Homo sapiens: one gene and its partner. The protein of the gene in region 1 purifies or fractionates together with the protein of each later gene. This does not show direct contact. Each region holds a gene or a part of one and is shown in the gene's direction. Other genes may lie near its edges.

Region 1 (3,500 bases):
CATCTCTCTAGGAGGGTCTGGGCATGGAAGGATGCCCAGTTGTGAAGAGCACCCTCTCAGGATGGGGCACATACAGCAGGGCAGTTTCTCAGAGGCCCTCTTCCTTCAGGAAGCCTTCCTAGGATTTTGTTGTTGTTTGTTTGTTTGAGACAGGGTCTCACTCTGTCACCCAGGCCAGAGTGCAGTGGTGCTACCTCGGCTCACTGCAGTCTCGACCTCCTGGGCGCAAGTGATCATCCCACCTCAGCCTCCTGAGTACCTGGGATGACAGGTGGGCACCCTCACACCTGGCTAATTTATTTATTTTTTGTTTTTTTGTTTTTTTTTAGTAGAGATGGGGTCTCGCTATGTTGCCCAGGCTATTCTCCTGAGCTCAGGTGATCTGCCAGCCTTAGCCTCCCAAAGTGCTGGGATTACATGTGTGATCACTGCTCCCGGCCCCTTCCTATGTTTCTGGGGGTTTTGTATCCCCCTGGGCTTCAGAAGCCCTTTATACCATGGTATAATGCTAGGCTGGGTCAGCTGCTGGCAGAGGGTTCGAAGACCCCTAGGCCAGGCTCCCGACCCTGCCCTGACTTCACTCCAGAGCCACATTGCAGAATGACAGGGACCCTGTGAATGTCCGAGGGCTGGGGCTGCCTGGCAGGCTGCCAGTGCCTGGGGCTGAGCCAGGCTGGCTTATCTCTGTCTGGGGCATCTGGGATGGTGTGGCTGGTCCCTAGATCGTCCTGAGCCCTCTCCTTGCCTGGAGGCCCAGCTCAGGACAGCAGTCAGAACAGGCCCTGGGCCAGACTAGCCTTGGTGGGCCAGGAGGGACTGAACTGCTGACTGGGACCTCATGAGTCTGGGGAACCTGGGAGTGAAAACTCAGTGTGAGCCCCCCTGCTGGGACCCACCGCATGTGGCCTGGGGTATTCCTGGCCCCCGAGCCTCAGTTTCCCCATCTGTCCAGGTGTCTATAGGGATTGGACAGGTAGGTGCAGGTACTTCGAGGCCCAAAGGCCTGGCCTGACAAGGGCGCAGCAGCTTCTGCCCCGCCGGTCCCGAGCGCCCCACGGGCGAGTGCCACTCATACACAAACAGTGCTAATGAAGAACCTGATTTAAATGAAAACGTCTGAGTTAAAATTTTCCATTCCACATTTAGCTGTGGCGGACATTCTGCCCCTAAGCCACCCCTCTTGCTCGGCGGTATCTCCCTGCCAGCCCAGGCGGGACTTGGGGCCTCAGCCCGGGTGGGGCCTATGGTGGTGGTGCATGTCCCTGCCTGTGGCCCTGGAGGAGGGATTGGAACCTCGGGGCTGGGCCCCCTGGACCTGCCCTCCACCCGTAGCTTGGCTGGAGCCAGCCAGGAGGGGCTCAGAGGGACATGGCGGGCCAGACACTCCACCTCCAGCCCAGGCCCAGAGCCTGTCTTTGCCTGGCCCTCCGGCAGGCGAGCCTGGTGTGCACCATCAGGTCTGGGTGGGAGTGGAGCCTCCCCGAGCCTGGACCCAGACTACTGCCTGCTAGGCCCTGCCTGTGGGAATGCGTGTCTTTGAGTGTCCCTGAGCATCCACACATGGCCTCCCCTGTCCCCATGTGTCCTCATGCATCCTTGCATGTCCTTGTGTGTCCTCCCGTGTTCTTGCGCACCCTGAGAGTGCTTGTGTGTCCTCACACTTGCCCTATCCACAGAGGGGCAAAGGGAAGCCCAGAGAGTGGGAGGGCCGTGTCTGAGGCCCAGAGTGAGGGGCAGCCGAGCCGAGGCTGGATAGGGCTGGGTGCAGTGTGAGGAGGCATGTGTCTATGCATGCCTGTGTTCACGCGTGTTCACACATAGGTCTTGGTGGGTGAGTGATGTGCAGGCGTGTCTGCGTTCATGCATGTGCACCAGTGTGTGCACGTGTGCATGTCTGCATGCAAGTGTTCATGCATGTATATGTGTTTTGTATGCAGACATGATTGCATGTGTGCATGTGTGCCTTCTGTGCACCAGAACAGGTTGTCTGTGTGTTTATGTGTGTACATGCCTGTATATTTGTGTGTGTGCACACATACCCATGCACATGTGCCCTGGAGCATGTTTGTGTGTGTGTCCATGTCTTCACACGTGTCTGTAGGTGCCTGCGTGTGCTCCTCATCTTCTCTCCCACTGAGCCCTGAGAGCTCTGGGCCCTGGTGGGTTGGCCTGTGAGCTGGTCCCTGTTAGGCAGGATCTGACCTTGGGGACTACAGAGAGGACAGTTGCCTCACTCTGGAGGACTGGAGGAGTGGGCAGCAGCTCAGGTCCCAGTCAGAGAACCCACAACAAGCCTCCCCAACCCCTGGATTAGGGCCCATATGGGCCCTCACAGGCATGTGGCAGGTACCCGCACTGGGCAGGAGGGACCCGGTCACACTGCAGATTTCCCAAAGTAGCCCCACGGCTGCAAGGCTGCTGTCCAGCCCGCCTGGTGTGGGGGAGTCCAGGCTCAGGGAGGACACAGCAGTACCGCCTGCTTGGGCTGGCAGGGAGCTCAAGTCAGCATGGGGTTCAGGCCCCGCCTGCCTGATGGGCGAACACACCCCCAAGGCCCCCGTTAGGGCCAGGAGGCAGGCTGGCAGCCAGCGCAGGTGCAGAGGGGCCCCGAGGCTTCCATCCTGAGGTCAGCACTGGGAGGACAGAGGCTGCCTCCTTGCAGCCCGAGGGTTGACCAATGGCACTCGCCGCATCCCTTCCCAGAGCAGGCCAGCCCCACGGGCATCATGAGGGCCTGCGTTTGGTTTAATGCTCCGCTGTCAACATCTTGAAATTCTCTGTAATTTTTAAATAAGGGGCCCGCAGTTTCATTTTGCACAGACTATGTAGCCAGCCTTCCCCAGAAGGCTCGTGGAGAGCTCCACAGGCCCTGCCTCTCCCTGGGGGAGCTGCTCACCTGCCTGTGCCCATCTTGTTGGGCCGACCCTGCCTTAGGGGCCTGTGGTCCTGGCTGAATGGCGTTGCATTGGAGGCCAGGCACATGTTTGAGTGCTGCCTGTGTGCCAGGCAGGGCTGGGGAGGGTGGAAGGAAGCCTGGGGGCTGAGCCACTGGGCAGGGACAGGGAGAGCCCTCCCAGCAGAGGGAGGTGTGGCCGCAGCTGTGTCCTCACCCTGGTGTCTACCTCCACGGGCTGGGCCCTGGACAAGAGGAAGGGTAACTTGGGCTCCCAGCCCCGCCGAGGATGGCTGTCGTGGGAAGCGGAGTCTTTAAATAGCCTCTTGCTTTCCACTAAAAATAGTGAAGCTCTGCTGCCGTGGAGGTGGTTGCCGGGGCGGCGGGGCTGGCTCTTGGCCAGGCGGGCGTGGGTGCAGCAGCGTGGCCACGTGCGCTGGAGTGGTAGGCAGCGCGTGGGCCCCATCCACTGCTAGTGGCCATAGAGGTCAGGGCTGCTGTGGGGGATCCCCACTAGCCCCCCGACTATGCAGAGGGCCTGGGTGCAGGGAGGGACGCAAACCCCTGTGTTCCTGTCCCTGCTGCTTGTCACAGCAGCTGTCTCAGG
Region 2 (3,500 bases), on another chromosome or scaffold:
GCTTTCCCTGGGGGTGGCCTGGGGATGGGGTGGGGCCCCTGCACTCAGTGAGGGGGATTCTGGCTCAGAGTGGCCCACAGAGTCCACGGAGGGTCACAGCTTCAGTCGGCCTCACACTGTATTCCTCCTCCATGTCTCTCTCTCTGCATGTATGCACCTGTGTCTGTGTGAGTTAGAGGCGGGGTTCATCTTCCCAGCAAGAATAAGGGCTTCCCCCTAGAGCACCTGGATCCTGACAGGTCGGGGGTAGAGGGGTCCAGCATTGCACCCCAACCTGCCCAGGGCTCACCAGGCAGCACTCACGGCCCCTTATCTGCAGCCTCCCAGGTGACCATTCTCTGTACCTTCTTCACCGTGGTGTTTGCCCTCTACCTGGCCCCTCTCACCATCTCCTCTCCCTGCATCATGGAGAAGAAAGACCTCGGCCCCAAGCCTGCTCTCATTGGCCACCGCGGGGCCCCCATGGTGAGTGCCACCTCAGGGTCCTAACAGCCCCGTTGGGGTGGGGTGCGATGGGGGGGACCTTCTTGGGAAATGGATATATGTAATGGTAGCAACCATTTGTAGCTTTTTGAGGGGAGGTACATGGGAAGGACTGGCAAAAAGGCCGGGAGTGCTGGGATGGAAGCACATCTTGAAGCGTCCTGAAGGCATCTTGCTAAAAAGATTTCAGTTTTGTCCTAAGTGCCCTGCAAAGATGCAGGAGGGTTTTAGGCCCAGGCTAGACCCAGGTGCCAGTTAGGAAGGCCCAGGAGATGGATGCTGAGTGTGGGGCCTGGGGTCTGCCACCAGGCATCAGGAGAACCCTCCAGGAGAGCTGGGAGGCAGCTCAGAGCCCACTGTGACAGTGAGTACGGCTGAACCGACGTGAGTTGGAGAAAGACGAAGGGATCAAAGTCAGCGCCGCATTCTGCCACCAGTGCACTCCATAGCCCTGCAGGAGAGCTTCGGTGAGAGGGCAGGCTCCAGAGCCATGTTGCCTGAGTTAGCATCCCAGCACAGCTCCTCACCAGCTGTGGGAGGCCCAACAGTTTCCATCTCTTTGCCTGGTTCCCCCATCTTGTACCATGGGACTAGTGAGAGCACCTGCTGTGGGGCTATGAGGAGCAGGAGTTAGCATGTGTGCAGTGCCCAAATATGCACATGGTGCACAGAAAGTAAGAGGCAGACACTGCTGTTACCTTGGGCAGGGCCATCTCTCTGGAGCAGGGTCTCCTGCTCCATGAAAGCCTTGAACCCAGGCTTCTTAGCAGAGGTAGTACACACCCCCACCCTGCCAAGTGGGGGTGTGTGTGAGCACTTCCTGAGGGCTTGGCTTCCTGGTGTTCCAGGCTGTTGTGGGACCTCAGGGTAGTAAGGGGGTCTCACATAACTGCTTTGGAAGGAGGTGCTGGGTCTGCCGGGCTGCCACTCACTCTGGAAGTCTGGCCCCCTGCATGTGGTGGGTATTATTTTCTCGATAAGACTCCAGCCCCTGAGCCAGACTCCAGTGCTGACCCCAGTCCCTCCCAGAGGCAGCCAGTGGGGATCTGGATCTGGTGTCCAGTTTGGCCACATGCTGCCTGTGCATCTTGGAGGGGTCACCAGTCCCCTCTGTGCCTCAAAGGTATGGATGCCCATGCTGCTGGTTATTGTGAGGACCAATTGGAGCCCAGCCTTCCCAGTGGGGGCAGGGGAACTCTTCTGAGGGGCTTAAAACGATGGCCCCTCCTGTCTCCATGACTCAGATTACCATCTCCTGGGCTCCCTCCAGCAGCCAGGGGACATAAGTGGTATGCTGAAGCAGGAAGGTGGCCCCAGCGAGGATGGTTTTCTTTAGTAGAAAAAGGTCAAATATATGCAGAAGTGGAGAAAAGCATATAATGACTCACATAATGAAGAAGGATGTAATGAATCCAATCCCATACTTATCTACGTTTGGCCATTCTTGCTTCATCTGTTCCCTACTTTTTTTTCTGGGGTAGTAAAGCAAATCTTAGGCATCGCATCGTCTTACCCATAGGCACTTCAGGATGTATCTGTAACACATGAGGACTTCAGAAAGATGCATAGCAACAATGCTGTTATTACACCCAGCCAATATTAAGGATAATGATTCCTTAATATTATCTAAAATGGAATCCATGTTCAATTTCCTTTTATTGTCTCGAAAATATCTTTTTACAGTTTAGTTGTTAAAAATCAGGATCCAAATGTGGTCCACAGCACGCATCTGGTTGGCGTGTCTCCTGAGTGCCTTTTGATTTGTAACAATCCCCCGGCTGGGCTCAGTGGCTCATGCTTGTAATCCCAGCACTTTGGGAGGCCAAGGCAGGCAGATCACCTGAGGTCAGGAGTTCGAGACCAGCCTGATCAACATGGAGAAACCCCATCTCTACTAAAAATACAACATTAGCTGGATGTGGTGGTACATGCCTGTAATCCCAGCTACTTGGGAGGCTGAGACAGGAGAATTGCTTGAATCCGGGAGGCGGAGGTTGCAGCGAGCCGAGATTGCGCCATTGCACTCCAGCCTGGGCAACAAGAGTGAAATTCCGTCTCAAAAAAAAAAAGTTCCCCGTCCCTTTTTTCCCTTAAGCTGTTTATTTGTCCTGAGAAATGGAGTCATTTGTCCTGTGGGATTTTTCACATTCTGCATCTGACTGATCATGCCCTGGTGGTAGTTTTTGAGGGGCTGGCAAGGGTCCCCTCTGTGTGTCCCTGTGCATTGCCTTGGGGGGCTCTGACTCTGGGTCCACATGTCTGTGTGTGGTGAGCCCAAGTGCACATCTCTGTCTTGGAGACTGTCTGTGTGTCCCTGGATGTGTTGTTCCTATGCAGATGTGGCCTGTCCCTCTGTGCATGTGTGTACGTGTACTTTAATATTTGATTGCACTAACTCTGAAGCTAAGACTCTTTTTTAATAGTACTTTGAGTTGCTGTTTTATAAATCTGGGTCTCTTAACCATAGTGTCCCACCCACCTGAGTAACCACCACCCCCCTATGCACACCCTCCTGACAACAGAACCCCACTTGGACTGGCCTGAGGCAGGTGCGAGCTCTGAGACGGGGACTAAGAATTCACCCCAGCAACGTGTATGCTTCTGGGGCCTTCCTGGAGTCCTGAGCCTGGCCAGGGAGGGCCAGGTTTCCATATCTCTTTCTCCAGGAGGTCAGCACCTAACCCAGAGAGAACTTAACTGTGTCTAAAAGCTTCCAAAAAAGACTTTCCCCTTCCCAAACACTTCCTCTGCCCTGAGGGTCTTCGCAACCCCTTCCAAGCTTCTGCCTTCTGCAGCCCCAGCCCATGCAGCAGGGAGCGTGGACCCCTGTCAAGTGGTCCCTGATGGAAGGCCTGGCCGCAGGATATTCAGAGATGGGTGGGATTCCACTGAGTCCTTGCCTCTCTCTCCATGCCTTTGTAGTCCTGCTTCCCCTGGGAGTGCCTCACACAACCCACTGGACTGGGAGACAGGTAACATGTCCTCCAAGAGTGCTGTATGCCAGGGACAGGAGAAGA

Evidence for each region.
Region 2: the proteins of ZDHHC8 (region 1) and GDPD5 purify together in Homo sapiens (co-immunoprecipitation; one large-scale study listed by IntAct). This does not show direct contact.

What each region holds. Positions count from the first base shown.
Region 1 is NC_000022.11:20,134,804-20,138,303, forward strand, and holds part of ZDHHC8 (palmitoyltransferase ZDHHC8), read left to right. Parts: intron 1-3,500. UniProt on the Homo sapiens protein: Palmitoyltransferase that catalyzes the addition of palmitate onto various protein substrates and therefore functions in several unrelated biological processes.
Region 2 is NC_000011.10:75,445,942-75,449,441, reverse strand, and holds part of GDPD5 (glycerophosphodiester phosphodiesterase domain-containing protein 5), read left to right. Parts: intron 1-319; coding exon 320-465; intron 466-792; exon of another isoform or gene 793-950; intron 951-3,500. UniProt on the Homo sapiens protein: Glycerophosphodiester phosphodiesterase that promotes neurite formation and drives spinal motor neuron differentiation.